Homo sapiens: one gene and its partners. The protein of the gene in region 3 purifies or fractionates together with the protein of the main gene of each other region. This does not show direct contact. Each region holds a gene or a part of one and is shown on either strand. Other genes may lie near its edges.

Region 1 (8,406 bases), on a different chromosome or scaffold from region 3:
ACCCCATGGTAGAGAGGAAAAAAGGGGAAAGAGAAGACAAGAGGAGGCTTAAGAGAATAAAAATGACATTCCTAGTCCTTTTCTTATTCTCCCCCAAGCACATTTTCTATTACAAAGTGGTGACAGGGATGAAGGAACACAGTAGAACCTGTATTAGAGATGTTAGAACAGAAGATGGATTATTCCTCTAAATTGAAATATAGACATCTATTTTCATGATTAATCAAATTTATACATGGCAGAACCAGGTGCTAAGATAACTGACTTCAAAAGACAGGAAGGCCAAGTTCCCTCTGGAGGTTCCCTACTGCTACTGCTAGAATACACCAAGGAGTGGATCGTCAGTCCTGGTTGCCACTCCATTGAGGACTATCTGGATGGTATCCTCTAGACAAAACGGAGACTAGTGGTCAGCCCTATATAATTAGTTCCATTTTGGGTCTAGAGCCTGTTGAAAGGCAGTGATAACTCCTTGAATACACAGACTACTTTACTTTGGAAAATGTTCACAGTCTTAGAAAAGTATCTGTGTGAAACCATGTGGAACAGATGACCAGGCAAGAGCTTGGATCCTCGTGAACAGACTGCTCTTTGAATTATTAATGACTTTTTTTTTTTTTTTTTGAGATAAGATCTGGCTCTATTGCCCAGGCTGGAGTGCAGTGGAGTGATCTCAGCTCTCTGCAACCTCTGCCTCCTGGGCTGAAGACATCCTCCCCACCTCAGCCTCCCGAGTAGCTGGGACTATAGGCACGCACCACCATGCCCAACTAATTTTCCTATTTTTTTTGTAGAGATGGGGTTTTGCCATGTTGCCCAGGCTAGTCTTGAACTTGTGAGCTCAAGCAATCTGCCCGTCTTGGACTCCCAAAGTGCTGGGATTACAGGTGAGAGCCACTGTGCCTGGCCAATGACTTTTTTTTAAATGGACAATCAATATTGTCCCTTGCTTATCTGCACAGATCTTATGCTAGAAGCAGTTTTGCTTTTTAAATTAAGACAGTGGTCAAAGTATCATAGTTAATGTATTAATTACCACCCCGGAGGCAATGGTGAATAGAGAAGCAAGGACTTTGAATTCAAAGGTATGAACCTGAACTTAAAGTTATTTAATCTTTCTGAAACTCAGTTTATTCATGTGCAAAATAAATTGTTGATAATTAAATAGAATAATGCATGTAAAGCACGCTGTCCAAAATTCTGGGTGTTTAATATATATGACAGTTATTACTATAAGAAAAAGTAACATATTTAAATAAGACTAAGGTAGTGAATAATTTATATTTATCCCAGGGAAATAATGAGACACACAACAAAAACAACAACAACATTTCAGCAAACATTTGATGAAAAAGACAAAATAGTTATATTAATAGCGTCAGAGGGCACATATAGGTGGCTAAAGTGGTAGAAGAGAAGAATGATGATAGTGACAATAATGACAATTATTAGCAGCTACCATTTAATGAGTCCTTACTTGCCCAAGGTCAATTAAAATGTTAGAATTGAGATGTGAACTTTGTCTCTCTGGCTCCAAGGCCAAACTCAATCTTCTACAACACAGTTCCTCTAGTGTCATGTGGGGACGAATCGGTACAAGAAATGCAGAAAAGGGAAGGCAGGGACAGGAAAGAGCCCCTATAATTAAAGTTGTAATAGAGAGTTGAAGCATTTTTTTCCCCTCAGAGACCAATGAGGTCACATAGAATGCTTTTTGACAAGGCAGAACCAGAAGTACAGAAATGAAGTCTGAAGAGGAAGAGAATGTTTTCCCCTTCCGAAAGGCATACTACTTAACAGTAGCCCTCAGTCTGAACTGCTCCTAAGTTGCTACCTAAGGGCTGAAAATTGACACCAACTGTTTGGGGCTGTTTTGGAACTGCTTAACTAGGCAAGGAAAGGGTGCAGAGAAGTTCCACTACAGAGGTAACAGGAGCCTGATTCCAATAGTCAGTGGGTCTCAGTTTCCAAAAACTTCTATGTTTGAGTACTGTCTCTTTGATGTCTGAAGAGAAGAATCACATGACATGCTTACTTTCCATCAGAGTTTACTTCAAGGTGATATGCACATGGGAAGAAATTACTGACATCAATTAACTTAGAATCATGGGGAGATTCTGCCTGGCAGAACCTCGGTTGCCCTCCTCAAATAGGAAGTGTTTCCCATGGGATAAAGCAGGTAATAGGTTGGTCCAAGAGGAACAAAGTTGTCATTTGAGTGTTCTCTTCCTAACCAAAACTTGGGTGACAACAACATCAAAGAAAAAAAAATCATCTGTTACAAAGCAAAATATAACCATAAACCATCATACAACTTAAACATATAAAATTAGGCATCATATCTTACTGTGGTATACTATAGACAACAACAACAACATACATTTGACCTATGTCTAAATTTGAGTAAAGAAACATCCTAGTTATTAAACACATAATAGTGGTTTTTAAGCTTATAATTAAGAGGTGTCAATATATACATTTCCTTTCGGATGGTATGGGCATTCAGATAAATTGTAATCAACTGAGTGATAGAATAAAGATAGCAGATCTTCAGTACATGCTTCTTGTGGCATTTTTTCCCACTCACTAGAACACTGTTCAAATTTAAGAGCTCATTTAGTACTTCTCTTCTGTATTTTTCCTACTTCTCTAGTTTACTGAAAGCTACAATTGCAGCTACTCAATATATAAAGGCCACTAAGAAATAACATGTGGTAGGAACTCTATTTGGATGAGTTATCAAAGTATTTCATACTTCATTAAAAATCTATAAAAGTAATTACTAGGTCATCAGCAAATACTTTTTTTCTTCCAAAGGAACTTCAAATCATGTCTCACAGAATTGTCTCACAAAAAATCCTTGTTGCAATATCTTGCCTGCCCACCCTCACTGTAATTGGTATGGTTATTGACATAGTCATAAAGGTTTGAAATATGGTTGTTAATTAAGTAGCAGTGAATGTGTGGAATTTAATATAGAAAAGGGTAAGAAATAAGAAGTTAACATTTATTTTCCAGAGCAATTTTATCTACTGAATAAAGCTAGCAAATAGCTCAGTATAAATAACTATGTTAAATGGACTCAATGGAAAGATTTTTATTTTTGTTTTTATTTCTCCTGCCCCAGGAAGTTTTAGTGTTATTTTGTTTCATAAAAAATTATATATTTAGTATGAAAACTTATAGCTTACTTCTTGTAAACCACAAGGTAAGTCCATCTCTTATTTATTATCATCTTCATTATCTATTGTACTCAGAAGCAACAATTCCTCTTGAGTTCTGAGTGAATGTGTTCATGCCAAATAAATCTCTCATGTTCCCTCCTCCCAACCCTACACCTTATACCTTGTCTTCTAAAATTAGAAACAAGTTACATGATGTTGAAAAGATTCCAACTTAACTTTGATCATAACAATCAATACCTGGATTGTTTGGGAGAGGAATTTTTAGTTTCCTTAAGTAGTAGGAGGTTATTATCTAAAGAAGACTGGATACAGTCAAAGGTATTTAAAAGCAACAGAGTTTACTCAGATACATGCCTGATCAATCAGAATTAATCACATTTATACTTGCTGAGAGTGAAAATTTTACTTAATTAGAAGGACAGTTGACAAGGAAAATCTAGGTTTCCATATTTCAAATACATGTTAAAGATACACTTTAGAAAGCACTTATATCAGATATGCATCCTTTTCTTTTTAATTAAAGCATCCATTTTATTGTATATCTGCATTTAGAGCATGAATAATCCCAGCATTTAATTACTGACTCCTAAGTCCCGAGACCTAGTAAATAATTCAATTTTTCTGCCCACGTATGCATATTAGGATAATGAGATTAATAACAATGATACAAATAGAGAGATTGATTAGTACAAATATAGCTACTTAACTATGACACATAAGCACAAAGGAGAATACAAACTCTGATTCAGACATTCCTCACATACTTTACGGGCAGAGGAGAAAGAAAAATCTTAAACTATTCAATTATCACTGGTAGTTAATACTGTTCTTCTGCAATTCCTGAAGGAAAATTTGTGTTTATATGATAAAAGGGAATAAAAGAACAGTTTCATGGCTAGGCACGGTGGCTCACACCTGTAATCCCAACACTTCAGGAGGCCGAGGTGGGTGGATTGCTTGAGCCCAGGAGTTCTAGACCAGCCTGGGCAACATGGTGAAACCATAAAAATTTAAAAACATAAAAAATTAGGTGCAGCGCACCAGCATGGCACATGTATACGTGTGTAACTAACCTGCACAATGTGCACATGTACCCTAAAACTTAAAGTATAAGAAAAAAAAAAAATTAGCCAGGCGTAGTGGTGCATGCCTGTAGTCCCAGCTACTTGGGGAGGCTGAGGTGGAAGGATTGCTTGAGCCAGGGAGGTGGAGGTTGTACTGAGCCAAGGTCGTGCCACTGCACTCCAGCCAGGACTCAAAAAGAAAAATAAAGGTTTCATATTAAAGAAAAGCTGACTAATAGAAGCCTTAGGAAAGAATAACCTATGTAGTATTTCTTTCAATGGTTGAGTATGAATTAGAAGATCTCTAGCCTAAGAAGTGTCTGAAACAAAATCAACAGATCTCACCACATATAACTGGGTTGCATATAAGAAAGCTCCCAGAATACTCTGAGAATAAAGACATACACACACATATATTTTAATGAGAATAAAGAATAACAAATGATAATGAGGAGCAGAGAGTATGTCCTATGAGAGCATGTAGGGAATTAGTTTATTTTAGCAGTTGGCAATATATATCATTCAATTAACTGTCCTCCTATCTCTGAGACCTGATAAGGCAGCACCAAAATCTCTTGAAAAATAGTAGTGCTGAGTCGATATAAGGCAACATACACAGAAGGCACATGGTAAATATTCAGTATTGGTGCTAGGCAATAAGGACAGAGATGAAGGCTAGAGAATAGTTATCATTACCCCTGTGGGTATGCTGGCTATTCCAACTTAAACTATCTTTCCAAAAATTTAGATTATTTAGAAACTTGAATGAAATTTTCTCAAAAGCTATATTTTACAAATGATAATTAGGTTTTTAGATTAGCATAAATACAAATGGAAAACTCAAACGATAGCTGCAGAAAACTAAGATTTCAAATATACCTTCGGTGATAAAAATACAAATAAAATTTTGCATTTTATCTACCATTTATCAGGTACACATGTCTCAGGCACTAGCAGATGCTACACATACTCTTCTTTTTTTTTTTTTTTTTTTTTTTTTTTTAAGAAAGGCAGACTGCCACATGCAGCACTTCATTTGGATGTGTCTGGAATCTTGGAAGCTTGACTACCCTATGTTCTCCTACAAATGGACTTGAGAGCTTGTCTGGAGGTTCCAGCAGGGAAGCGCAGCTACTCGTATACCCTTGACCAAAGACTGGTCCTCTTCTAGTGGAGATGGTTGTCCTCTTTGACTGAGAACACAGCTTTGGGAGGCATGAACATGGAGTGGTGAGGGAGGAAGGGGACAGCCACTTAGCCAGCCAGATCAGCCGAATCAACCCTGGCGATTAATGGGGTGACAGATGTCACAGCCAGATCGCCCTCACATTCCATACTTTGTTTTATGTAATATTCAATAACCATGAGGGCTGGTGTTACCCCCATTTTATAGATGAGAAAATCAATGCTTAGAGTAGTTAGGTAGCTTGGCAGGAAATCACAAGATTAGGAAGTGTGAAAGCCTGCACTCAACCCCAGGCTTTCCTACTTTCATAGTCAGCTCTTAATAATACAGCTTGCTCTTTTGCAAGACCTATCATAAGAAAGAAGCTGTTTGCTAGGAATGTTTTATATGGCCTGGGAGAAACAGAGTTTAGATGCAGGGGTATTCAATGTCTGGGCTACTACAATGTTTTATGGGGAAATCAGGACAGAATACCTCAAAATGGGACCTTACCAGATACACCAAATTTTATGCTTTCAGTAACTATACAGGGAAGGTATTTCTCTTGGACAACTACTTCCAGAAATTATAAATTGGGAAAAAAGGAATCAACCTCATCACAACATTTAAACTGAGATTTGTTTGGGCAATATCCTTTTGGCTTGAAAGTCTCCAAGGATCCCATTCCCAAACACTGCCTTTTGAGTGTCCTGTTGCCAAGTCTATTCTGGAATTACTGGAAGGACCCACTCAGAGAATGTCTATGGCCTAAAACATGAGACATAATCTGGGAGACATCAATAAGATCTACAATGTCATGGAATGCTGCAAAGTGAGTATTATCTACTCTTTGGAAAGTTCATCTCTTTAGAGAACTTATAGAAAATAAATTAGTATGTGACATTCTCAAACTTACAGACTCAAGAAAAATAATGTAAAGATTTTTTTAAAGTCTGAGAAGTTGGCTGGGTGCAGTGGCTCATGCCTGTAATCCCAGCACTGTGGGAGGCTGAGGTGGGCAGATCACCTGAGCTCAGGAGTTCGAGACAGGCCTGGCCAACATGGTGAAACCCCATCTCTACTAAGAATACAAAAATTAGCTGGGCGTGGTGGCAGGTGCCTGTAATCCCAGCTACTCAGGAGGCTGAGGCAGGAGAATCGCTTGAACATGGGAGGCAGAAGTTGCAACAAGCTGAGATCGTGCCACTGCACTCCAGCCTGGGTGACAATAGCAAAACTCCATCTCAAAAAAAAAAAAAAAGTCTCAGAAGTACAAAAGAGTTGTAAAGTTTTTTTTTTTAAGTCTAAGGAGAAACCTGAAAATGAATATGAATTTTCATATTTGTATGGGAATTATTTTATATATAGATTATGTCACTCCTTTAACAAACAATACATTTAATTCTCTTTCTTAAGAGACAGGGTCTCATTCTGTCACCCAGGCTGGAGTGCAATGGTATAACCATAACTCACTGCAGCCTCGAACTCATGGGTGCAAGCAGCCCTCCTGCCTCAACCTCCCAAGTAGCTGGAACTACAGGTGCATGCCATTGATCCTAGATAATTTTTAAATTTTGTTTTTAGAGCTGGCATCTTGAACTACTACTGGCCTCGGGTGATCCTCCCACTTTGGCCTCCCAAAGTACTAGGATTACAGACATGAGCCACCACACATGGTCAAATTTAATTCTTTTAAGGACAAAAACAGAACTTACCTTTGGAAATCAGCAACCAACTTGACATCAGCTATGACAATCTTATGCTCAATAATCATGTGCTTCAGAAGTTTGTCTTGTTCAGCCACAGGAAAATGTTCTTCACAGAAAATACAAGGCACAGATGGAGAACCTTCTAAAGTGGTGGTGCCACCTGGACTTTCTGGCAGGGAAAGCGGCTCCAGGATACAATCCTTACTGTCTGGAATAGACCAAAAAAAAAAAAAAAAAAAGAAAGAAAGAAAAGCTGAAACCAACTCTTCATATGGATGATTTCCCACCTCCTGCATTAAAAAGATCCTAAAGATATTTACATGTCTCCAAAAAGAAAAATACATAGTGCTGGAGAGTAGGATACTTTATTATCATTTTAAACAGTGTTTGTAGCCCAGAGGCAGGGAGTATTGCAAAGCAGCTCAAACCCCTCATTTGCTTGCTTGAATGGGGGAAACCCATTTGTCAGGGCAGCTGTTCAAGCCTTCTTCTTGGACACTGGCCAATGGCAGCAATTCCCGGGGTACTTGCAAGGGGGAAGGCTGCAACACTCTGGGTTAAGGTTCTAAGGCTCAATTGTGACCTATGGCTAAGAATCATCACACCAAGGGAATAAATGGTATACATTAAGGCGACAGATGATGCCAGGCCTGTCTGTTAAGTTGCTTCCTGTCGCATCTGCAAACTCTTTCCTGTTTCTGATTATTTGTCACAAACAAGAACAAAGCTCTCACGCTGGGTAGACACAGTATGTGCTGGGTGGCCCTCATGGCAATTTTCTATGTTGACTTATGTTTATCATTTGCCTATTACACAAGTATGCATTACAATTCAGGCTTCTGTGAACAAATAGATGACTGCTCGATCACTAGACATATGTGATGTGGTAAACATTTTTCCTGGCTATATTATTCCTCTTCCTAACATCTTCTACAGCATCTTTAAGAGCTGAAGTATGTGTAAAGTCTATGTCTCTCATTTCAGAGCCTAAAACCACAGCCAGTCGTGACAGTAGCCCCCTTTAGTCTGCCAGAGTGGACGTCTACACCTGTCACCTTATACAGGCTATTTAGTAGTTAGTAATCAGGAAACTGGGGTAAAGAAACTAGGGTAAGGCCTCTGGCATTTGCAGAAAGTCAGGCAACCTTCAGAAAGAAGAGAACCTTCTTCAGAAAGAAAGACACAAAAACTAAGCCACAGACAAGTTTTCAGAATTAGGTTAATATTAGTTCTCCCGTTAAAGTTTCCTATTTTTTTCCCTTACTTTATCTTCTTTTTAAAGG
Region 2 (8,628 bases), on a different chromosome or scaffold from region 3:
GGCAGGGAGTGCCGACACAGGGTTGCTGTGCGTTGTAGCCACCACCCCTTAGCTCCACACCTTCCTTCCTCCCATCAAGCCCACCTTCTCCAGCCATGAACTTCTCCAGGAAGCTTTCCCAGGTCCCAGGGTGAGGGTACACTTTGGCCATGTGGTAGAAGTGGTAGTAGGAAACCGCCACATCCTTTGCGTTGCGGGCAACATAGACCACCTGCAGGGGCAGAAGACTCAACCCCAGCACCATCACCACACAGCCTGCCCCAGGCCAGCTCATCTCTTGGTTTGGCAAAGGAGGAAGCTGAGGCTTAGAGGCTGACTTGTTTGAGATCTCACGGCACAGGTAGGGCCAAGTCAGGATCTGAACCCTGCTCAAAAGCCAAAGTCCTGCCTGGTCCCTGAGACCATCATATTCTATAGTAATATAATCTGCATCAATGCGTCACACCCCGATCTGGAGCAAGGCATGCTCCACCAGGCATGTTCCCACCACCACCAAATTTTGTGGGCCTGTGAGGACCCACCCTCTACCTTTCTTAGGTCTACCCGGAAGAGTCTCATGTTTTTGGTCATCAGAGCAAAAGGCAGACAGTCCCCCCCGTGGAAGATGAGACAAGTCTGGAGGAAGTGAGGCGACTCTCCCAGAAGAACAGGACCAAAGCTGGGCTGAGCCGGGGCCTCCTTCCCTGGATTCACATGCCCCACACCTGGACCTTTGCTTTTTTCTTTTTGTTGTGGTTTTTTTTTTTTTTTGGGGGGGGGGACTCTAGGTCTCAAAAAAAAGAGAAAAGAGAAAAAAGACCTTGGGCTTTCTTTTTTCCTGTTGCCCAGGTTGGAGTGCACTGGAGTGAGAATAGCTCACTGCAACGTTGACCTCCCAGGCTCAAGCAATCCTCCAACCTTAGACTTTTGAGTAGCTGGGACTATAGCGCTATGCCACCATGCCCTGCTGATTATTTGCATCTTTTATAGAGATGGAGTCTCCCCATGTTTCCTGGGCTGGTCTGGAACTCCTGAGCTCAAGCGGTCCACCCATCTTGGCCTCCCAAAATGCTGGCATTACAGCGGTGAGCCACCCAGGTGGCAAACCTTTTAAAATATTTATTTGTTTTGTTTGAAACAATGTCTCGTTGTGTCTCCCAGGCTGGAGTGCAGTGGCACAATCTCGGCTCACTGCAACCACCGCCTCCCAGGTGCAAGCTATTCTCCTGCCTCAGCCTCCCGAGTAGCTGGGATTACTGGCGCCTGCCCCAACGCCTGGCTAATTTTTGTATTTTTAGTAGAGACGGGGTTTCTCCATGTTGGCCAGGCTGATCTCAAACTCCTAACCTTGGGTGATCTGCCCACCTCGACCTCCGAAAGTGCTGGTATTACAGGCGTGAGCCACAACAGGCCCAGCCCCCTGCCACCTGCCGCTTTTTTTTTTTTTTTTTTTTTTTTTTTGAGACAGAGTTTTGCTCTTGTTTCCCAGGCTGCAGTGCAATGGTGAGGTCTCGGCTGACTACAACCTCTGCCTCCCAGCTTCAAGCAATTCTCCTGCTTCAGCCTCCCAAGTAGCTGGGATTACAGATGCCTGCCACCATGCCCGGCTAATTTTTTTGTATTTTTAGTAGAGATGGGGTTTTGCCATGTTGGCCAGGCTGATCTCAAACTCCTAGTCTCAGGTGATCCACCTGCCTCAGCCTCTTCAAGTGCTGGAATTACAGGTGTGAGCCACCGCACTGGTGGGACACTCTTTCTATTCATCGTTTTTTGAGACAGTGTTTCTCTGTCACCCAGCCTGGAGTGCACTGGTGTGATCATAGCTCACTGTAGCCTTAAACTCCTAGGCTCAGATGATCCTCCCACCTCAGCCTCCTGAGTAGCTGGTATTACAGGCACACACCACTATGCACAGCTAAGTTTTTTTTTTGGAAGAGACTTATCTGGAACTTCTGGCTTCAAGGGATCTTCCCACCTCAGCCTCCCAAAGTACTGAGATTGCGGGTGTGAACCACTGTGCCCAGTCTCACCTTGACCTTCTGATCCAACAGAGTCTGGGGGAGCAGAGCCAGGGGCAGGTGTGTCTTCAGGAGTCGTGGGGCTGGTGTGTTTTTCAGAGTCTCCATCCCTGAGCAGTGGGTCAGGGAAGGTCTGGTGAGCTGAAGCCCCAGCCCTGTCTTCCTCCACTCCCCTTGCACCCAGGACACACACACCTGAGGGAATCCCTGGGACTTTGAACTCAAGGAAGGGCACCCGCATGAAGATGGGAGCTCGGTGACACTTTTCCAGGTCACCGCCCTGGTAGATCATGTCCAGAATCTGGCTCACCCAGGTGGTGCCTGGAGAGGGAGGGAGATGGGAGGTGAGCAGGCTGAGGTGAGCATGACCTCGCTGGCCAAGGTGGGGACTGCCACCTGGGAGAGGGTGGGTGGCCCTCCTCACCTACCGGACTTGGGGTAGGTGCTGATGAGCAGGTCATCAGGCCGGGCCTGGAAGCTCTGCAGGGGCCCCAGTGCCTCTGCAAAGTACTTGATGAGCGGGACCCCCTTCACGTACTCCAGTGGCGGGCGAGAGATGTCCTGGATCAGCTCCATGTTCCTGCGTCAGGGGCCAGAGCCAGGCCCGTTCCCTTACCACCATCACAACAGCAAGAAAGTGGAATTCTTGCTTTCAGGGAAGTCACTGAGGCCTAGGGAGGCTGAGTGACTTGCCCGCACTCACAAGGCCAGTCAGTGGCGGGGCTGGGGCTGAAAACCAGGTCGGGCTCTAATGTGGTGGTTCCCCAGCCTGGCCTCACCTTTCATTCACCTGCGGAGCTGTTCAAAATCCCAGGGCCTGGGCCATGGTGCAGACCAGTGAAAGCACCCTCGTGGCGCGGGGCCCAGATGTCAGGGTGTGTGAAGGTCTCCAGGAGAGTCCAGCTGCACTGAGGAACCTCTAGGACCTTCCTGTGCTGTCTTCCTGCCAGCCAGCGCCCTTTGTCTCACCATTTCCTGCTGGGACCCCCAGCCTCCACCCAGTAGGCTCCTCTCCCCGATGTTCCCCTCCTTGAGCCCCTCGGCCCCTCACATGTGGCAACTCCTAGGCTGGCCAGGCCTGTGATCCACTTGCCCGGCCACAGTCCATCTGGGCTCCAGGACAAACAGCCCATTGAGCAACTGAGCTGGTATTGGGGGCCAGAGCCTGATGTGGGAATGAGCAAAACTGTGATGACTCAGCAAAAGGAGGATCCTGGGCAGGGTGGCTCCCACCTGTAATCCCAGACCCTAGGGAGGCTGAGGCCAGAATTTGGAGACCAATCTGGGCAGCATTGGAAGACCCCATCTCTAAAAATCTTTTAAAAATATTTTTTAAAACTATCCAGGCAGGATGGTGAGGGTCTGTAGTCCTAGCTACTGAGGCAGGAGAATCACTTGAGCCCAGGAATTCAAGGCTGCAGTGGCCAGGATCCCACAGCACTCCAGCCTCGGTGACAGCAAGACCTGGCCTCCCCGGAAAAAAAAAAAAGGAAGGGAGGGGGATTCAGGCCGGCCGGGGTTGTCTGAAATGGGATATCCATGGGGAGAGGGCAGGGATAGCAGAGGCCTCGGCTTCTGGAATGTTGGAGCCACAAGCTGAGCAGGGTGAGGGCGTCCTGGGCCATTCCGGTGTGTCACTCACCTGAGCTCTTGGGAACCTGGCCTTGTGCCCTCCTCGCCCGCAGTGGCTGAGTGTGGGTGTTGTGTGGGGAATGCAGGGGTGTTGTCTGTGCTGAGGGTTTCTTAGGTCAGTGTGGGAGGGATCTGGAGCCGGGGCTGGACTTAGATTTGCTTCCGGAAGGAAGGGGTAGGGTTGGGGGTGGGGGAGCTTCTCTATTACCCTCCTTAGTTTGCCAGCTGGAGACAAGCTTAAAGTGATCTCCAAAGCCACGACTGGGTTTGGTGTGTAGAAAACAGAAGAATGAAAGGGGAAAGGGCCCAATGGTGGGTTTGTTTTTGTGGGTTTTTTTTTTTGAGCTGTCACTGGGCTCCTGACCTGCCCCTGAACTCCAAAAGACAAGCTTTCTCTAATTGACCCAGGCAAGAGAGGGGAGGGATTGGAGGAGAAAGATGGGATAGGCAGGCCCTGGAAAGGTCACCTACCTGCTGGCTCCAGGCCAGTCTTGAAGGTGCCAGGGGTCCTGGCCCAGTGCAACCCACAGGCCTCCAGCAGCCCATGCACTCCAGGCTCTGACCACAAGGCCAGTCTGGAGTGATGCGTGTGGGCAGAGTGAAGGGGCAGGGGTGGAGCAGAGCATGGATCCATAGAACAAGAAAGAACAAGGACACTGCAGTCCCATTGCCCTGGGAGCCAGCCCCAGCTTCATGGCTCCCTGGGGACCTCACAGAACATCGATAGAAGATCCTAGAAGAACCACAGCCCCTGGCAGGTACTTTTCTTTCCATGGGTTTGAAGGAGGCTCCACAGACAGAGGCCAGAGGAGGTTGAGGCTTGGAAGCCACAGGGCCCCGTGGAAGGAGTGCATCCCCCCACCCTCCTCGTTCTTTGTCCTCACTATTTAAAGTCCAGGGTCAAGCTGGGCACGAGACAGGTAAACAACCATCTGAGTAAAGGTGAGTCTCCCAAGCCTTCCCAGGGTTGCGTGAGCTCAGAGGCAAGCGGGGAAAACTGAGGCATGGGATTTCCAGGCAGAGGAGAGGCTGCTCCCCTGCTAGGGCCACAGGCCCCTCCTCCCTCCTCTGTGCCCCTGAGGAATCCCCATGACTGGCAGGTCCTCCGGCTACTAGCTCCACCCCTGCCCTCAGCAACCTTCAGGAGGCCCTCTTGACTGAGACTTTGTATTGCACTCTAGTGAAAACCAGCCGGACCAGCAGGGGGTGGCACAGAAAAGAGGCGAGAATGTGAGATTAATAGAGTGCTAGCAAGACAACAGAAAATCCCAGGCAGCAGTTTCACATGACCAGAAGAAGGAAACTTGAAATAGCTGCATGTGCCAAGGGCCAATAAGTCCCTGAAAAATAGGATGAGGACCAAGCTGGCTGCGACCAACCAGAAGCAACATGGCGCTGTATTTGATGTAGGTTTCACCTAGGATCTCACTGTACAATCAGTAACATATGAAACCGTACACCCACCAGTGCCAAGACGGCTCCAGGAACACCTGTATTTGGGTGTAAATTGTGGCACCACGGTCTTGAGAAATCTTTACCTTTTCCTGGAATCTTCATGAATATACCCCTCTTTAGTTGAAGAAGCCCATAAAGGTCAGCCCCACACCTTGTAGGGCATGAGACACTCTCTTGAGGACCCCCACGTTCCTCTTCTTCAGTGAGTCCCTTTACTCTGCAGGAAATCTGCCTACGTTCATGACTTTTGCACTTGTCCTTAAATTGTTTCTGGCTAAGGTGCCAAGAGCCTGGAGAAGGCCTGGCACGGTGGCTCACTCCTGTAATCCCAGCACTTTGGGAGGCCGAGGCAGGCAGACCACCTGAAGTCGGGAGTTTGAGACCAGCCTGACCAACATGGAGAAACCTTGTCTCTACTAAAAATAGAAAATTAGTCAAGCCTGGTGGCACACGCCTGTAATCCCAGCTACTTGGGAGGCTGAGGCAGGAGAATCGCTTGAACCCGGGAGGCGGAGGTTGCGGTGAGCCAAGATCACGCCATTGCACTCCAGCCTGGGCAACAAGAGTGAAACTCGGTCTCAAAAAAACAAAACAAAACAAAAAAAAGCGTGGAAACGGGCTGAGGTCGATGTCCCACCGGTCTTTGATGACCTCCCCTAGGCCACCAGTATCTGGAGGGGATTAGGGACACTGAGCTCCAGCAGGGCTATCCAGTGTGCCTGCAGAAACAAGGTTGGTCACAGGCAGCCCAGGACAGGGAGTGGGGTAGGGAGGCTGGGGCCAAAGCCCACTCACGTCTTCTAATTCCGAGTCTTCCACTATTTCCCCCGTGCTCATCCATCACAGCCAGATCAGGTCACCCAAAGCAGTGACGCCTCACAGCTACCAAGGCATGGGGCCAGAGAGAGAGACAGAGTCAGGCATCACAAGCCCCCTCCAGGCTCAGCCCTGAATACCAAGATCAGGACACGGCTGCCCCGGCCTGGATTGCACAACTGGGCACCCTCTTCCCAAAGCTGGACCAGGCTGGGGCCGGGGGACTGCACTCAGCTAGGGCATTGGCCCTCTAGGGGCAGAAGCTGCCCTGGTTCTTCCGGAAGGAACTCCTCTCACAGGCAGATCACGTGGGCTCTTAGCCAACAGCCAGGGTTGGGGCAACACAAGGGCCCCGCTTCATCCTGTCCCAGGCAGCAGGCAGGTAAGAGACAAGGAGGGAGAGGCAGCTGGCAGCAACCCCTCTATGCAGCAGGCACTGTTCCGGGCATTACACAGCTCCATCCCGTGAGGCAGAGGTGACTGTTATTTGCATCTTACAGATGAGGAAATGGAGGTGGGGGTTTAAAATCCTTGCCCCTGGGACTAAGCTGGTGCAGGTCCTGGGAGCATCAGCAGTGATTGATTGAGTCACAGCCTCACCACTGCAGCCAGACCTGAACTTCCTCACAGCTCAGCAACACCCAGCAGGTCACTGAATGTCCCCAGGGCAAGTCCTCTACTCACTCACTATTAGCGGGTGCTCAGTAGAAGGCACCCGTTTTCCATTATTTTATTAACTATTTCTTGGCTATCGTCTCTGTGCAGGACTTTGTTCTACAGCAGTGACAAGAGCTGCCCTCGGGCAATGTAGTGCAAAGGTTGGGGTGGGAGAGACTAACGAGAGTCATAAAGCACCTAGCCGGTGAGATAGTAAGTATTCAGGTAAAGAAGCAGACGGGGAAGTACACAAGAGGTGCAATTTTATTTTATATTTTTAGAGACAGTTTCTTGCTCTTTTGCCCAGGCTATAGTGCAGTGGAGCGATCAGAGCTCACTGCAGCCTCCAACTCCTGGGACCAAGCGATCCTCCCACCTCAGCCTCCCCCCGTAGCTGGGACTACAGGCATATGCCACCATGCCCGGCTTCTCAGAGCTGCAATTTTAAATCGGGAGATAGAGAAGACCTCCCTGTGGAGGTGGCAGGTTATCAAGATAGGTGTAGAGAAGAACCTTCCAGTCAAAGGGAAAAGGCAGGTCCTGCTGTGCTCAGGAATGGCCAGAAATACTATCATCCCCATCTTAGAGACGGGGACAGGGCCGCAAAAGTGTCAGGGCGTTTCCTGGCTCCTCAACAAACAGCTGGATCCGAAGTGGTCTGGGGGATGAGCCGCCCTGCCTGGGGCGGACCTCCCCTGGAGCTCAAGGGCTCGCAGGGCGCACAGGCCTCTTGGGCCCCGGGTCCGGCTCAGGCTCGGGCTTGGTGCCAGCAAAGGGACCTGCGCGGTGCCCTGGGGCCGGGGAGGCCCGAAGGCCATCGCCCGTGCGGCGCGGCGCATAGAGGTCCCGGCGGAGGTCGGGGTGCAGCGGGAGTAGGAGGCGCGCCTATGGAGGGGGTTCCAGGCCCACTCCAACAGCGGCAGGATACGGAGGAGTTAGGGCGGCTCCAGGCAGGGGGGCGGACCCCAAGCCCTTGCCCGCCTGCCGCCGCCTGGTCTCCTTCCTTACCCGAAGGGTTGCCACGGCGGGCGGGAAGCCGTGCACGACGAGCACTTTCTCCCTGGGGAGGAGAACGGGGGTGTCCCTGTGAGCCCTGCCGCGCCCAACCGCGGGTCCCCTCCAATTCCACCCGAGAGCGGGGTCCTCACTGCCGGCTTCAGCCTAGCCCCAGGCCCTGCCCCTAAATGAAGTCACGCCCCCTGAACCTGCCCACCTCAGGCCGCGCCTCCAGCCCAGGTACCCACCTGTCCCCCCTCCTCTCCCTCCTGCGCTCCATCCGACCCCAGCATGCCCACCAAGACCCCTACGCTGGCCCGCATCCTGGATCATCACCTCCGCCCCAGCCAGCTCCTCCCCGGAGTTCCACCGCCAAGATTCCCAGGGCACTGTCTCCCCGTCATGCTCCTCCTCTGTGACAGTCCCGTCCCCACCCTGGACTCCCCACCCATGTCACAGGCATGCCCCTCCCTCTCATCAGGCTTGTGCCCAGCGGGGTCCGCCTCCTCCAGGAAGCCTTCCTCCTGGCACAGAGACCCTTCCGGTCTCACCAGGAGTGCAATGGCCCGATTTGGCTCACTGCAACCTCTGCCGCTGCCCCCTGCCCCATCTTTCAAGCAATTCTCCCGCCTCAGCCTTTCGAGTAGCTGTAATTACAGGCACGTGCCACCATGCCCGACTAATTTTTGTATTTCTATTACAGACGGGGTTTCACCATGTTGGTCAGGCTGGTCTCGAACTCCTGACCTCAAGTGATCCAACCGCTTTGGCCTCCCAATGTGTTGGGTTTACAGGCTTGAGCCACCGCGCCAGGCCTGGGCCCTGCCTTTTGTGTGGTCCCCATTGTGCTGCTGGACCTGACAAGCAGGGCTGACAGTGAACCCCATATAAACGTGGCCCTGATGACGGGGGTTCAGGCCTTAGAGCAGGTAGATGCTGAAGAAGCGCCCCGGCCTAGCCGCGACTCCCGTGGAACTCTTTGAATTTTAGGAAATTCTCCTTAAACACACTTCTGGTTCAGCACCGACATCAAGAAGAGAGCCTCTCCAGCACCTGCAAACTCACTTTGTCCCTC
Region 3 (6,139 bases):
TGGAATTATACCCTCCCTTGTACTCATTCAGATCTTCAAGTAAATTTCACCTTTCAGAAAGGTCTTCGCTGACTACCCAATCTAAAGAAGCACCCCTTGACAGTCTCTGTCTCATTTCATTGCCCTTTTAAGTCTCTGCCCAGAACTTAACATTATCTAATATTTGTATTTATCTGCTTTCTCCATTAGAATGTGAGTTGCAAAACTCTATTCCCGTGTTGTGTGAATTTAGACTGTATCTCTAGCTTATAGTATAGTATAGCATTATCTTAAAGTCATGGCAAAATATTCAAGAATACAGTTGCCTTTAATTTGACTTTATCTGCCAGTCTGTAATACATTGCCCTGTATGGACCCAAGTTCAAGAAAGCAATACCTTAACTCATCTTCTTATTCCTTAAGCTAGATTCAGCTCCCAGTTACAAATTAGATTCTTCAAGTACATAGTTGAGTTTTCCCTGATCTGTTGACATTGAGTTAAGTTACCTTCTGAGGATAAAAGATTTGATAAAGGGCTGGGCATGGTGGCTCACACCTGTAATTCCAACACTTTGGGAGGCCCAGGGGGGCGGATCACTGGAGGTCAGGAATTTGAGACCAGCCTCGCCAACATAGCAAAACCACCCCCTCTACTAAAAATACAAAAATTAACCGAGTGTGGTGGTGCACACCTGTAATCCCAGCTACTCAGGAGGCTAAGGCACAAGAATCGCTTGAAACTGGGAGGTGGAGATTGCAGTGAGCCAGGATCATGCCACTGCACTCCAGCCTGGGTGACAGAGTGAAACTCTGTCTCAAAAGAGAAAAGATTTGATAAAGGTTCTAGTTTGGTTTAGCTTTATTGTAGCATGATTCTTAACTATTAAAATATTCTCCAGTCAGCCAAATGGATTGCCTAGGTAGTCATTACTACTTAACACATGAGAGAAATGTATAATATAGAGCTTGATACCTGACCAGAAGACTAAGATTATGCATCTCATTTTCAATAGTTAATTTGTGAGTTGATGGTAACTGTATTTTTTTGTACTTTAATTAAATAAAAGTGTGTTTTATGTAACTGGCTACAGAAGTTTCTGAAATTTTAGTGGGTTAGGGTTAAAGGGGAAAATTACAACTTAACAGTGATGAAAGGTATGTGAGTGGATCCATGAGATGGAGAAAAACAATACAAGACACTGAAATATAAGCTATCTTTTACCGTAAAGCTGGAAAAAGTTTTAAAATAGCTTCTTTATTTTGAGCTACAGCATGGACAGCACCAACAACACAGTACTCTGCAAGGATTTCTTTTTTTGTATTTTACAGCTAGTCCAAATTTCTCTTTAGTATTGTTAACATACTCTTTTGTACTATTCACTGTCATTTCAATATTGTTGATGCTCTCTCCTTGTTCCTCTACTAAAAGAGATATCTGAATGAAAAGATCCCTTAAATCCTTTATTTGGTTCTCCAAATTAACAAGTTCCTTGTGTCTCTGTTCAATCTCTGAAAGTTGTGCTTTAGTGATATTGATTTCTGTAAGTAAGCTTTCATTAAAAACTTCCCATTTTCCTTGATGAAGCATATCATTTACATCTTCTTCAGACATCTCTTTTCCAGCAACTTCAAGCTGACGTAAAATAAATGTCTTGCACTTCTCTTGCTTTGCTGCTATTGTGTCATTGTATATAAACATGATTTGCTGAAAATGGCGGAACATTGCAGCATGCTGAGATTTAAGTATCCTTGTGACCACTGAAGATGGACCATTTTCAACCTCTGACTTTTTAACTTCTTTAACTAAATCATTCAAACTTCTGTTGATGTATTCTGCCTGAATTTTTATCTCCTTTGTAATGGTAGACTCTCTCTTAAGTAGACTAAACCTTCTCATTGAAGCCACCAGACTTTTCTGTTGCTGCCCAAATTTTTGAACATTATCTGCCAAATTGTTAATACTTTCCTGTAGTTTTTGGATTTCATGTAGGTGTCTCTCAGCTACAGGCTCTCTTTCATAAATAACAGCTTGCTGTAGAAACACCCCTTGTTCCTCTGTTTCTGTAGTTGATACATGACTGTCTCTAGAGAGTTCAATTTCCTTTGTTCTCTGCTTTAGTTCTTGAAGTCGGTCTTTCATCTTCCCTTTCCTCCTAAGAAGCAAAAATTTTTGTGTTGAACAAGTAGAAATTTGGTATTTTTCCCCAGTAGCAGTTGACTTCACATAACTGTCTATATCCCAGCAAAAGTTCTCCTAGTTTTCTCAAATGAGGTTAAAAAGTTAGAAAAAACCAATGAGTTTCCTCATAAAAACCATTTAAATAGGGAAAGAAATATAAAATAATTTGTAAGTTACTTTGCATGTGAGTGCTATTTAGTTGTGTGCAATAGCTGAGAAAGCAGTGATGCAGACACAGTTGGTCAAAAATATTTGTCACATGATAGTTTTTTTTTGTAATAAAGAATGCTTTTGACTATACCTTCAACCTATAGGATTAGTCTTCAGATGCCAAAAATGCCCTTGTTACTAAAGATACTGTTTCCGGTTAATTTGGCCAATGTAATATTAAAAAATACTCATTTTGCTAAATATGCATCATTCAGTTAAAACCATTGTAGTGACAGTACAGATTTTATATGAGAACGTTAAGCTATATGGATAATATTGAATTTATTTTAAATTTTCCGAAGCCTCTGAATTAACGTATTACTTGGCATAATGTTTTTTCTAGCTGTTGCATATATGTGAAAACATTGGTTTGATTATGCTGATTTCTCATTCTTAGCATTCTTTTGCAAAGATATCCAGACTGTCTTAGAACAAAATTTATATCAATTTGTGTTAGGTGATACTTTTATAAACATGAGAATATATTTATATACAATCTTATTTTAGGAGTAATAATGATATTGACACTTATCACATGCTGTGTTGGTAGTTATCTGTAAGAATCAAATTGATGTACATAATTTATATTTAATGATATAGATATATATGAAATGACATACATACATATAAAATGAAGGGAATAAAAAGCAGTAAAATGCTATTATCACAGAGCAACTTGATTTTAGAAATGTCTTTCAAGACATTTTTGAAGATAAGAAGAGGCTGTTAGGGAGTACAGATAGCTCATTGGACCACATATAATATTAATATCAACCAGAAAAAAAAGGTCTCTGAATGTGATGCTGTTATGCTGTAGGACTCAGTGTTTGATATGTTTATGGAAATATTTCTATTAATCTGGATGTTGTCATAGGAGGCATACTTAACAAATGTGTAGATGGTGTAAAATTTGGAGGAATCTTTAGTATGTTGAAGTACAGGGTAGGGATTCAAATATTAAAATAGTGTGGAACTTTATACTAAAAATAACAAAAATATATTTAACAGGAATAGATTTAAAATATTTCATCTAGCTATAAGAAAAATATTTTCGTATCTACAGAGTAGAAGACCCTTGGGTTCACAATAGTGTCTATGAAAGTATTGGAGATTTTAATTAATTAAGCTTTCTTTTTTTTTTTTTTGGAGATGGAGTCTTGCTCTGATGCCCCGGCTGGCATGCAGTGGTGCGACCTCAGCTCACTGCAACTTCTGCCTCCCGGGTTTAAGTGATTCTCCTGCCTCAGCCTCCTGAGTAGCTGGGATTACAGGTGCCTGCCACCATGCCCGGCTAATTTTTGTATTTTTGGTAGAGACAGGGTTTCACCATATTGGCCAGGCTGGTCTCAAACTCCTGACCTCGTGATCCGCCCACCTTGGCCTCCCAAAGTGCTGGGATTACAGGTGTGAGCCACCGCTCCCAGCCTAATTAAGCTTTCTGTCAGAACCATCAGAATAGTCACTATGCTTTTATAAATAATAGTCTGATGTATGGATAGACTAAACTCTGCCAACTCTATGCTATTCAGAGCAAATTGCAAGGGTAAGGGGAACTCAATAAACTTCTGAGCATATTTTGAGATGGAAGTTCTTAAGTTAGGAATTACCAGACTAGCATGGAAAGGATGAGATTGGAAAACCATACCAAATGGAGACTCATTGAAATAAATGGTAATATTTGTCCTGTAAAAGAGAAGATGTAGGGTGTGTATACAGCTGTCTTCTAAACAAAGGTCTGTGTATGCAAGTGAGATTAGACTTACTTGGCATAACTCCAAAGGGCAGTGGGTGGAAATTACATGGAAAGAGGTTTGATTCAATATAAAGAAGACTTTTCAAACAAATATTGCTTTCCCAAGATGAAATGAGCTGCTTCATGAGGTGCTGAGTTTGCCATCACTGGACATTTTCAAGATGTTCTGGAATGATGACTCCAGGCAGGCATGTTACAGAAATGATGCCTGTTTTGGGTAAAAGGTTAAACCAATGTCCTGGTAATATTCCTTTGGTTTTAAAGGACTGGTATTTTGTGAAATAGTCATTGAAGTCTTATATGTATATAAGTTTTAAATGCTGTAATATATATTTAACATTTTCTGTCCTTGAGGAATTTATAATTTAGGGTGAGAAGGACAATATACAATTTAAAAGATAAACGGGATAATTTTAGGTTTTGATACAATAATCAGGCAGGGTCTCTAAGCAGATATTTGAGATGTGAGACTGAATGTTGAGAAGCCAGGCAGATGAAGAGCCGAGGGAGTGTATTGTAGGTCTAGGAGTTGGGTTGCCAAGGCAGTGAATGAGACTGATATGTTTTAGGAACAGAGTTATTGCATAAGAACAAAGTGAATGTAGATAGAAAGGAATGAGAGGAGTAACATGGGAAGAATGAAGTAGAAAGGTAGGCATGGACCACATCATAAAGGACTTGTGGGCCAAAGGAAGGAGTTTAGATTTTATTCTAGGTGCAGTAGAAGACAGTTAAAAGATAAATAGGATATTGACATGATTTGTATATATTTTTTCATTTTGATATGTAATTTAAAAAAATTTTAAACTGATACAGGGGTGTCCCTATGTTGTCCAGGCCGGTCTTGAACTCCTGGGCTCAAGCCATCTGTTCGCCTTGTCCTCCCAGAGTGCTAAGATTACAGGCATAAGCCACCATGCCTGGCCCTGATTTATATTTTTAAAAGATGTTGTTGCTTTCTATATAGAGAATAGTTTCCTGGGGAGGGGGTGGGAGTAGTTCACAGAAGAGACTTTAATGATAGAGATGGAGTAAATGGGAACCATCAGGATATATTTTTGAAACTAGAAGCAATAGGACTTGATGATTTTAACCCATCAGCACTTAACACAATCATTTCTTGAGACACTTTGAAGAAAAGTATTTCTCCTGTTTTTTTTCTCTTACCTTTTTGGCTCTTCCTTTATCACTATTTTCTTTTTCCTGGCTACTCCTTATCTCCCCCACCTGTAAATATTGGAAGATTTTAGACTGAGTCTCATTTTTATCCATCATCATTTTTTAGTCTCATGGCATTAAATGCTGTTTGTAAGCTGATGACCCAAATTTGTATCTCCAGTTTAGGTTGCTCTTAAAAAACTGCCTACCTGACAGCTGCATTTGAATGCCTCTATCCAAAATGAGCTCATAATCTTCCTGTGAACCCGTAAACTGCCCCATCTCTCTTCTGGCAACTCTATTTTTCCAGTTGCTCAGACCAGAGACTCAGAAGTCTTTTTTTGTTTGTTTTTTGAGACCGAGTCTCACTCTGTCCCCTAGGCCGGAGTGCAGTGGTGTGGTCTCGGCTCACTGCAACCTCCGCCGTCCGGGTTCAAGCAATTCTCCTGCCTCAGCCTCCCGAGTGGCTGGGACTACAGGCATGTGCCACCACGCCCAGCTAATTTTTGTATTTTTATTAACGACAGGGTTTCACCATGTTGGCCAGGCTGGTCGCAAACTCCTGATCTCAGGCGATCCGCCCTCTTCGGCCTCCCAAAGTGCTGGGATTACAGCTGTGAGCCACCGCGCCTGGCTGGAAGTCATTCTTGACTTTTTTTTTCTACATTTCATATGCAAGCACAGCAAATCTTGTCAACATCTCTTTCAAAATGTATTTGGATCTAGCCACCTCTTACCATCTCCCTGGTTCAAGTCCCTGTTATTTTTGTTAATTTTTTATTTTTGAGACAGAGTCTCCCTCTGTTGCCTAGGCTGGAGTGCAGTGGCACAATCTTGGCTCACTGCACCCTCCATCTCCC
Region 4 (6,746 bases), on a different chromosome or scaffold from region 3:
CAGTAGGTGCAGGCAGTACTCAGGCAGAAGGCGCTGCCAGCCACAGAGGTTTTTGGCTGGAGAAGTGACACCCCAAGGATCCCGTGACAGAAAGAGGAATGTGTAGAAACTGGAATCAACGGAGAGCAGCAGCAGCTACCAACTGTGTACTATTCCACTCTGTGAGGTTATAACTCAGACCATATATTTGTAGGTAATGTTTTTCCTTTAATCAAGAAACAAAGTGTTTTTTTAGTGGCTAACAACAATGTTAGGTAGATGAATAATGTTGTAATTATTGTTTTGCCATTCAAAGAAATGTTAAAGGAGCTAGGTTTGAAAAAGTCAGTGACACTCTGTTTTGCAGTACTATAAAATTGCAAGCCAAATGTGTGGCTTTTTAAAAATAAAGTAGGCCAGGCTCACGCCTGTAATCCCAGCACTTTGGGAGGCCGAGACGGGTGGATCACAAGGTCAAGAGATCAAGACCATCCTGGCCAACATGGTGAAACCCCGTCTCTAATAAAAATACAAAAAAATTAGCTGGGCGTGGTGGTGTGTGCCTGTAGTCCCAGCTACCCGGGAGGCTGAGGCAGGAGAATTGCTTGAACCCAGGAGGGGAGATTGCACTGGGCCAACATTGCGCCACTGCACTCCAGCCTGGTGACAGAGTGAGATTCCGTCTAAAAAAAAAAAAAAAAAACAGAAGTAAATCCCCAATACTTGGAAGCAGACCCCAGACATCTCCACTGGACATTTCACATCAGGTTAAATTTCATATGAGTAAAACCAAAAGGCAGTGCCACATGCCCAAGGAAACAGGGGAAAGAACACATGCTCTCCAGAGCTCTGGGGGCCTTTCCAATGAGATCTTCCTGAAGAAACATCGCTCTGACAAAGGTGAATTGTCATCCGCAATAGATAAAAACTAAGAAATTCTAGAGACATTTTATTCTCTCATAAAAATCATTTATTGGCACATCAGAAATGACAATTTTTTCTAGTATAGTAGTTGTATGCATCTGTAATTGCAATTCAGTGTAAACTACATGTTACAAGTCACTAGAAATCTAATTAGCAGGATGAATTTAATAAAGAACAAGAGGAACTATGAGTCTACCACGGCCCAGCCATTGAGTCTCATTGGAGAGTAAATCAAATATCAAACTAGTGTTGCCCTGCAACAGTTTTTCTGTAGCCAAGAAAAACCAAGACACACATAAACAGGATAGCACCCATTCCATAAATTAGGTACACTTAACTAGAAAAAGATTGTAACTGATAGAAATAATCTAAATAAAGTAAGCACAAAAGTAAATAATTAGCTATTTACATATATTCCTTTTTGCCAAAACTTTAATTTGTTAGCTTTCCCATCCTATCTCTTCCCTTCTATTTGTTATTCTTGTTTTTTCATGGTGAATTTCTTGGCTCACTGAAAAATATTTAGACAACTAATTAGAACTTCTTTCCGGGTCCTACCTTTCCTAAAACTTTATGACAAACTAATGAATTTCAAGGGTAACCTATGTAAGTCTATCTCTATATAGAAGTAAGATGCATTATTATTCTGCTATCAGTCATAGTAATGACATACAGTCCCATGTTTTTCCAAACATTGTTTGGACTACTCCAGAAAATTAGGCTGTGAATGGCAGCAGAGTGGATGGATTTTTCATTCATAACAGGCACAGATAGTATATATGGAGACAAGCATGTTTATCCTGAGAATGTGAATGCTGTGGACTGCAACTCAAGATCTCCCATTACTGAGAATGGGTCCTTTGCCCTCTGGTCACTCTTTTTTTTTTCAACTGTCAATTTTTAAGGCGTGGTATCATAGCAGCATCAGCAAATAAGAATGCTGACATCATTTCTACCAAGAAGGGCTCTGTGATGAGTGGCAGCAGGTACCATAATTAAATAGTGCAGCTGAAAAGGCATTGAGTTGGTACATTTCTGGTGCTATGGCCAGAATGTGTGGATTTTTAGCATCATTCTAGGAAGCCTGAAAGATCTTGCCCATGAGTCTCTTTGACCCTTGCCCATTTCCTTTCTAGTACATATGACCATTTATAATTATTTTATTTTTGCTTTTTCTCCTACTGGAATATAAGCTCCGAAGGGCAGAGACCATGCCTGTCTGTTCACCACTGTGTCCCCACAGTGTCTAGAACATAATGTTCTAGTGTCTTGAACAGTGCCTGGTCAATAGTAGGTTCTCAATTAAAAGCTTTTATTAAATAAACGAACCAAATCATTAAGTCCCCTGGTTTGCCTGTGTCTTAGAGACTTTCCAATTTTATACAGTGGCCAGGGTTCTGGCCTATCCTAATTATAGAGCCATCCTAACGATCCTACCCTGATGTGAACCTGTGTAGCGGATATTTTTGTGCTTCAATGAGTAGTAAAACTTCTCAGTGATAGATTCATTCTCCCAAAGCTTAGCTCTGCAGAGCTAACGCTACAGGAGAGGTAAGAGGGTAAGAACATTCTAGCAGGTAAGCTGTATGCTACAAATTCAGCTCATTCTTCCCTACCTCCCCCTACAACCTCATTGTTTGACAGAAAGCTTAAGAAAAAAAGTTAGCAGGAGAATTTTCTCCTGGCGGTGCCAGTCCAGTAAGTCACCAATAACCTGATCAGAAAAGAAAGAAAATATAACTCACCTACATAAAAAATTAAGTTAAATAAAAGCAAAATCTGGGAGTGGGAACCAAGTGACTTGGTGGGCTGTCTAGGTCCTTTGTTGGTTAGAATTGTTGGACATGGAAGCGGAAGCAGGCATGACAGCGGAGGAGAGGTTGAAAGGGAAAAGGGCAGAGCTGTGGGTGTAAAGACTGCAGAGGACCAGCTTTTCTCTCCTCCTTCTCCCACTCCTGCCAACTCTGCACCCCACCACGGCTGGCTGAGCTCCTTGCTGTGGCTCTCGCAGGCGGAGGTAAGAACAGGCAGCTGGCGCCTCCACGGCACATCCTTAGGCTATTGATGCTCTGCTGGAGTAGAAGTCGGGGACTGGGAGCCCGGTGTGCAGCGTGACCTGGGGAATGAGACTGTGAGTCCTGAGAGGCATCGTGCATCCCCCTGTCCCTTTACACAGTGTACCGTGGGTGTGTCCCTAACTCAAAAAGTGTTCTGTTTGCTTCGCTTTAAACATCTAGGCTAGCAGGCATTAAACGGAATTCAAGAAGAATCCTGCCTATGGTAACAGGCTGCTCACCATGGTGGGCTCTCAAATCCTGGTGACATTTGATTATATGGTTCTTAGTCACCTGCCTCTTTTAAAGGATTCCGGGGAGATTGTGTTCCTTATAACTGAAGACACAGGCCTTGGTTTTCAGATAGAGGAGCCTACTGGCCACACCACAGTGACCACTGCCAAATCCATGGATAGAGGACAGATTCGCAGAGACAGCACTTCCCTTATTACTTGTCCACTAGTTATTGTAATTAGGGCAAACATTTCTTTCTGGGGTCGCATAGATGATTGCCAGTTGTGAAAAAACATGGCATTATACTATTTTACCAATTTCCGTGTATCCCCAAACCTCAATGGATAGCTATGGATAAAACTAGAACCATTTCATGCAGTTCTTATCCCTGTCTTCTCCAGCCCAAGAGTCTTTATCAATAGATAATCAGAAGGTCCTGAAAACCCCTGAAGAGCATCTAGTATAATATTCTTTGAAAGGGAAATGGCTAATGTGAAAAACCTTGAATGGGGTTTTTCTGAGACTCGCTTCTAGGGTAATTTATGGTTTTCTTTCTTAAAGTGTAGAGGCTGAACTCTGAAAGATTAGATTCCAGCCTTCTAGAAAACCCCATCTCCTTGCAGGGAGAAGGGCAGGGGCTGCTAGTTTGCAATCAATGTTACTGCACATACTGAAACACAACAATGAATTTTGATAAATAGTTTCCAAGGCTGGTTCTGGATAGGGCAAAAGTCACCTGTAATTCTCAAGCCTTATCTCAAGACAACCATTTGTGGAATGAGGCTCATAGTTGTTAATGAGATGCCCAGCTCAGGAGGGAAGTGAAACCCTAAGTCCTGACAGCGGCTGGCAGGGCACAGCTCTTCCCCCATGCATGGCTCTGGTCCCCCTTCCAGGCCCCAGCCCAAGAGTCTCTCCACCATTCCTTGCCCATGCAAGGCCCCTCATGCCTTAGAAACTGTGCACAGGCTGTTCCCTCTGTCTGGAAGGCTCCACGCAACTCACTCCCTCACTCCTTTAAGGCTCAGCTCACCGGTAACTGCGATAAGCCCTACCTACGCAATACTGTGGCTGCCCTTCCCAACCACACCACTCATGGGCCCTTGGTCTTTTCTCCACTGCACTAAACACCTTCTGACACACCATCTGATTAACATTGTAATTATGCTTATTATTTATTGTCTGTCTCCTATCACTAAGATGTAAGTTCTATGAAGGCAAGATTTTTATCTGTTTTTTTGTTTTTTTTTTTCACTGATGTATCCCAGACACTTATAACTGTGCCTGGCACATTAAAGGCATTCTATAGATATTTGCTGAATGAATAAATGAGAAGCTGTTGTTTTATTCTATAATAAATAATAATTGACTAAGTTGTAGGTAGGGACTATGTTTTCTACCCCTTAGGACCTAACAGAGCCAAACAAGAGTGCAGAGAAGATGCTCAGATTTTCTGATAATGATACTAATGCTTCAGTCTTACACCCTCACCTCTTCTCAGGCACTCCTGAGCTTTGTTAAGTCATTCTATTTGTTTTCATGCCAGTTGGTTAAAGGCTTTCGTTTCTATTTAGAGGTGAAACTAGAGCTACAGAGATGATCATTAGCCAACCATGAAGAGAATTCTAGTTTCCTATGTGCTATTAACTAGTCTGCGTCCAAGTATAAAGAAGGTGCTTATGCTTGGCGTGGAATAAAATAAGTTGCCAGTGCTGATCCCTTTCTCTCCTCCTCTCCTTCATATCTTGGTCTGGGCCTTACGCTGTCAGCTTCCCTCTCTTCGGTTGGATTGAACGGCCCTGGGCAGCCTTTGAACCGGTAGCCAGCAACAGCTGTTTAACCTCAGGGGCAGGGTGCTTACCTGCACGTTCCTGTTCAGGCTGACCGCAGGGAAGAAGAGGCCCTCCACGTTATCAAATGCTATGGGACCTTGTTGTTCATCGTTGATAAAAAATGTCAAGTTTTTTCTATTTAAGTCGAGGAGGACCCCAATTGTGGCCCCTTTTGTGATCCCTCCCTCAGTTCTGTAGGAAAAGAGAAAAATTGGGGTTCATTTCCTTGTGGTCACTCTAGAAGCTCCCCCCTTTTGTGTGGTGAAACCAGTGTCTTGCAACCTGTTTATAATCATCACTACCCCAAAACCGTTTCCCTAATCATCCCTTGCACATAAATTTTAATACCGCAGATATACTGTATACCTGTTGGTACTGTGTGTATATCTGTGTTTTATACATAACAAGAGTATGATTTTTTGCTCCCTCCCTGCCACCATCAATTTTCACTTCCTAGGGGGAGATATCTGCCCTTGTGAGTTGCTCTGCTGTTGCTGAGAGTGAACTCATTCATTAGGGTCTCTACCACTGAGTCACAGCAGTAGAAAACCAAACATTAAAGACTAGGAAAAAGTCGCCTTTGGGCTATCAGAGCTCTGACTCTAGGAATATTGCACACTTTGTATAAATGGTGTGAATTAAATATCATTAAATACAAAGTGACTTAATTTGAAAGTCAAAATAAGAAGCACTTTTGTTGCACCTAAACCACATGCATGAGAAATTGGATTTGGGGCCTTATGTTATCCATTAAACAGAAAAACTCATTCCAGAAGGATAGCAGTTTTTTGGCTTGTTGCATTTGAATTAAGAACTTGGAGGCTGTCTGTGAAATGACAGCACTGAAGAAGAGGCTTCTTCTCTGTACAGTGAAATAATTATACTCTGAGATGTAGTGATTTTAAAGAACCTGCATACAAATGCCATTTTACAAAGAATTGTGTCTTATGCTTCAATTGATGGTTTCACAAAATGCCATTAAAAATGGACGATCAGATTTGTCTTTCCCATTTTTTTGAGATCTAGCAATATTGAACTTCGTCCTCATCTCAGCAGAGCACAGGAATTTGTGTCATTCATTTCCTCTTGCATGCAGGATACAGACTGTACATAGTCATTAAAAGACAGGTTTACAAATTGCCTCTTGCTACTTCACAGGTTTAACAATGAAAGCACAAGTGACATGCAGGTTGCATGCAAGCAGATGTGTTCAGCATTAAGAATGTGTTTCTCTGCATAGTGTGATGGTTATGTCATTATTCACTCCTGCACTTCAAAACAAAGACGCTAAAAGGGAAAAAGTAAGTGTGGCATTTGGGTGATAGCACTGAGAATCTATTGACAGAGAGTTCCACAAAATGCCGATCACTGAAGATAACCACTTATCTACATCCAGTAGGATTTGCTTTCATGGTGAAATGGTGTGTGTGTTCACTTCAAGTGACAGCGAATAATACACACTTGAATGCTATAGAAGCTATCCAAGGGAAAAGGAGGCTTTAGGAGTCTACAGGCTGGAGAAGGGTCAGTGATGAGCATACAGAAAAAGATAAAACAGTGGGGTCCAATTATCCTACCAATGTCTGACTTGCTTTCCCTTTGATCTGGTTGAACACTACTGTATTTTTTTTTTTTTTCAGAGACACTAATGAGAATGTATCCTGGGGAAATCTTGGAGCATAAGGTGGACCAGGGTCCACAGTAGAAATTTCTCTGCCTAGGA

Evidence for each region.
Region 1: the proteins of STX19 (region 3) and ZNF277 purify together in Homo sapiens (affinity purification with mass spectrometry; 3 studies listed by BioGRID and IntAct, with this or other methods). This does not show direct contact.
Region 2: the proteins of STX19 (region 3) and SULT1A2 purify together in Homo sapiens (affinity purification with mass spectrometry; 3 studies listed by BioGRID and IntAct, with this or other methods). This does not show direct contact.
Region 4: the proteins of STX19 (region 3) and TRIM9 purify together in Homo sapiens (affinity purification with mass spectrometry; 3 studies listed by BioGRID and IntAct, with this or other methods). This does not show direct contact.

Annotation. Positions count from the first base shown.
Region 1 is NC_000007.14:112,285,798-112,294,203, reverse strand, and holds part of ZNF277 (zinc finger protein 277), read right to left. Parts: intron 7,332-8,406; coding exon 7,130-7,331; intron 5,580-7,129; exon of another isoform or gene 5,253-5,579; intron 1-5,252. UniProt on the Homo sapiens protein: Probable transcription factor. Involved in modulation of cellular senescence; represses transcription of the tumor suppressor gene INK4A/ARF, perhaps acting via the Polycomb group (PcG) complex PRC1.
Region 2 is NC_000016.10:28,593,358-28,601,985, forward strand, and holds the start of SULT1A2 (sulfotransferase 1A2), read right to left. Parts: upstream 3,694-8,628; 5' UTR 3,640-3,693; exon of another isoform or gene 2,777-3,639; intron 2,609-2,776; exon of another isoform or gene 2,578-2,608; 5' UTR 2,574-2,577; coding exon 2,426-2,573; intron 2,319-2,425; coding exon 2,193-2,318; coding exon of another isoform or gene 2,108-2,192; coding exon 2,010-2,107; intron 212-2,009; coding exon 85-211; intron 1-84. UniProt on the Homo sapiens protein: Sulfotransferase that utilizes 3'-phospho-5'-adenylyl sulfate (PAPS) as sulfonate donor to catalyze the sulfate conjugation of catecholamines, phenolic drugs and neurotransmitters. Is also responsible for the sulfonation and activation of minoxidil.
Region 3 is NC_000003.12:94,013,151-94,019,289, forward strand, and holds the end of STX19 (syntaxin-19), read right to left. Parts: intron 5,349-6,139; exon of another isoform or gene 5,289-5,348; intron 2,133-5,288; 5' UTR 2,120-2,132; coding exon 1,235-2,119; 3' UTR 1,215-1,234; downstream 1-1,214. UniProt on the Homo sapiens protein: Plays a role in endosomal trafficking of the epidermal growth factor receptor (EGFR).
Region 4 is NC_000014.9:50,974,335-50,981,080, forward strand, and holds the end of TRIM9 (E3 ubiquitin-protein ligase TRIM9), read right to left. Parts: intron 5,216-6,746; coding exon 5,053-5,215; coding exon of another isoform or gene 4,957-5,052; exon of another isoform or gene 3,029-4,956; intron 3,020-3,028; coding exon 2,957-3,019; 3' UTR 932-2,956; downstream 1-931. UniProt on the Homo sapiens protein: E3 ubiquitin-protein ligase which ubiquitinates itself in cooperation with an E2 enzyme UBE2D2/UBC4 and serves as a targeting signal for proteasomal degradation.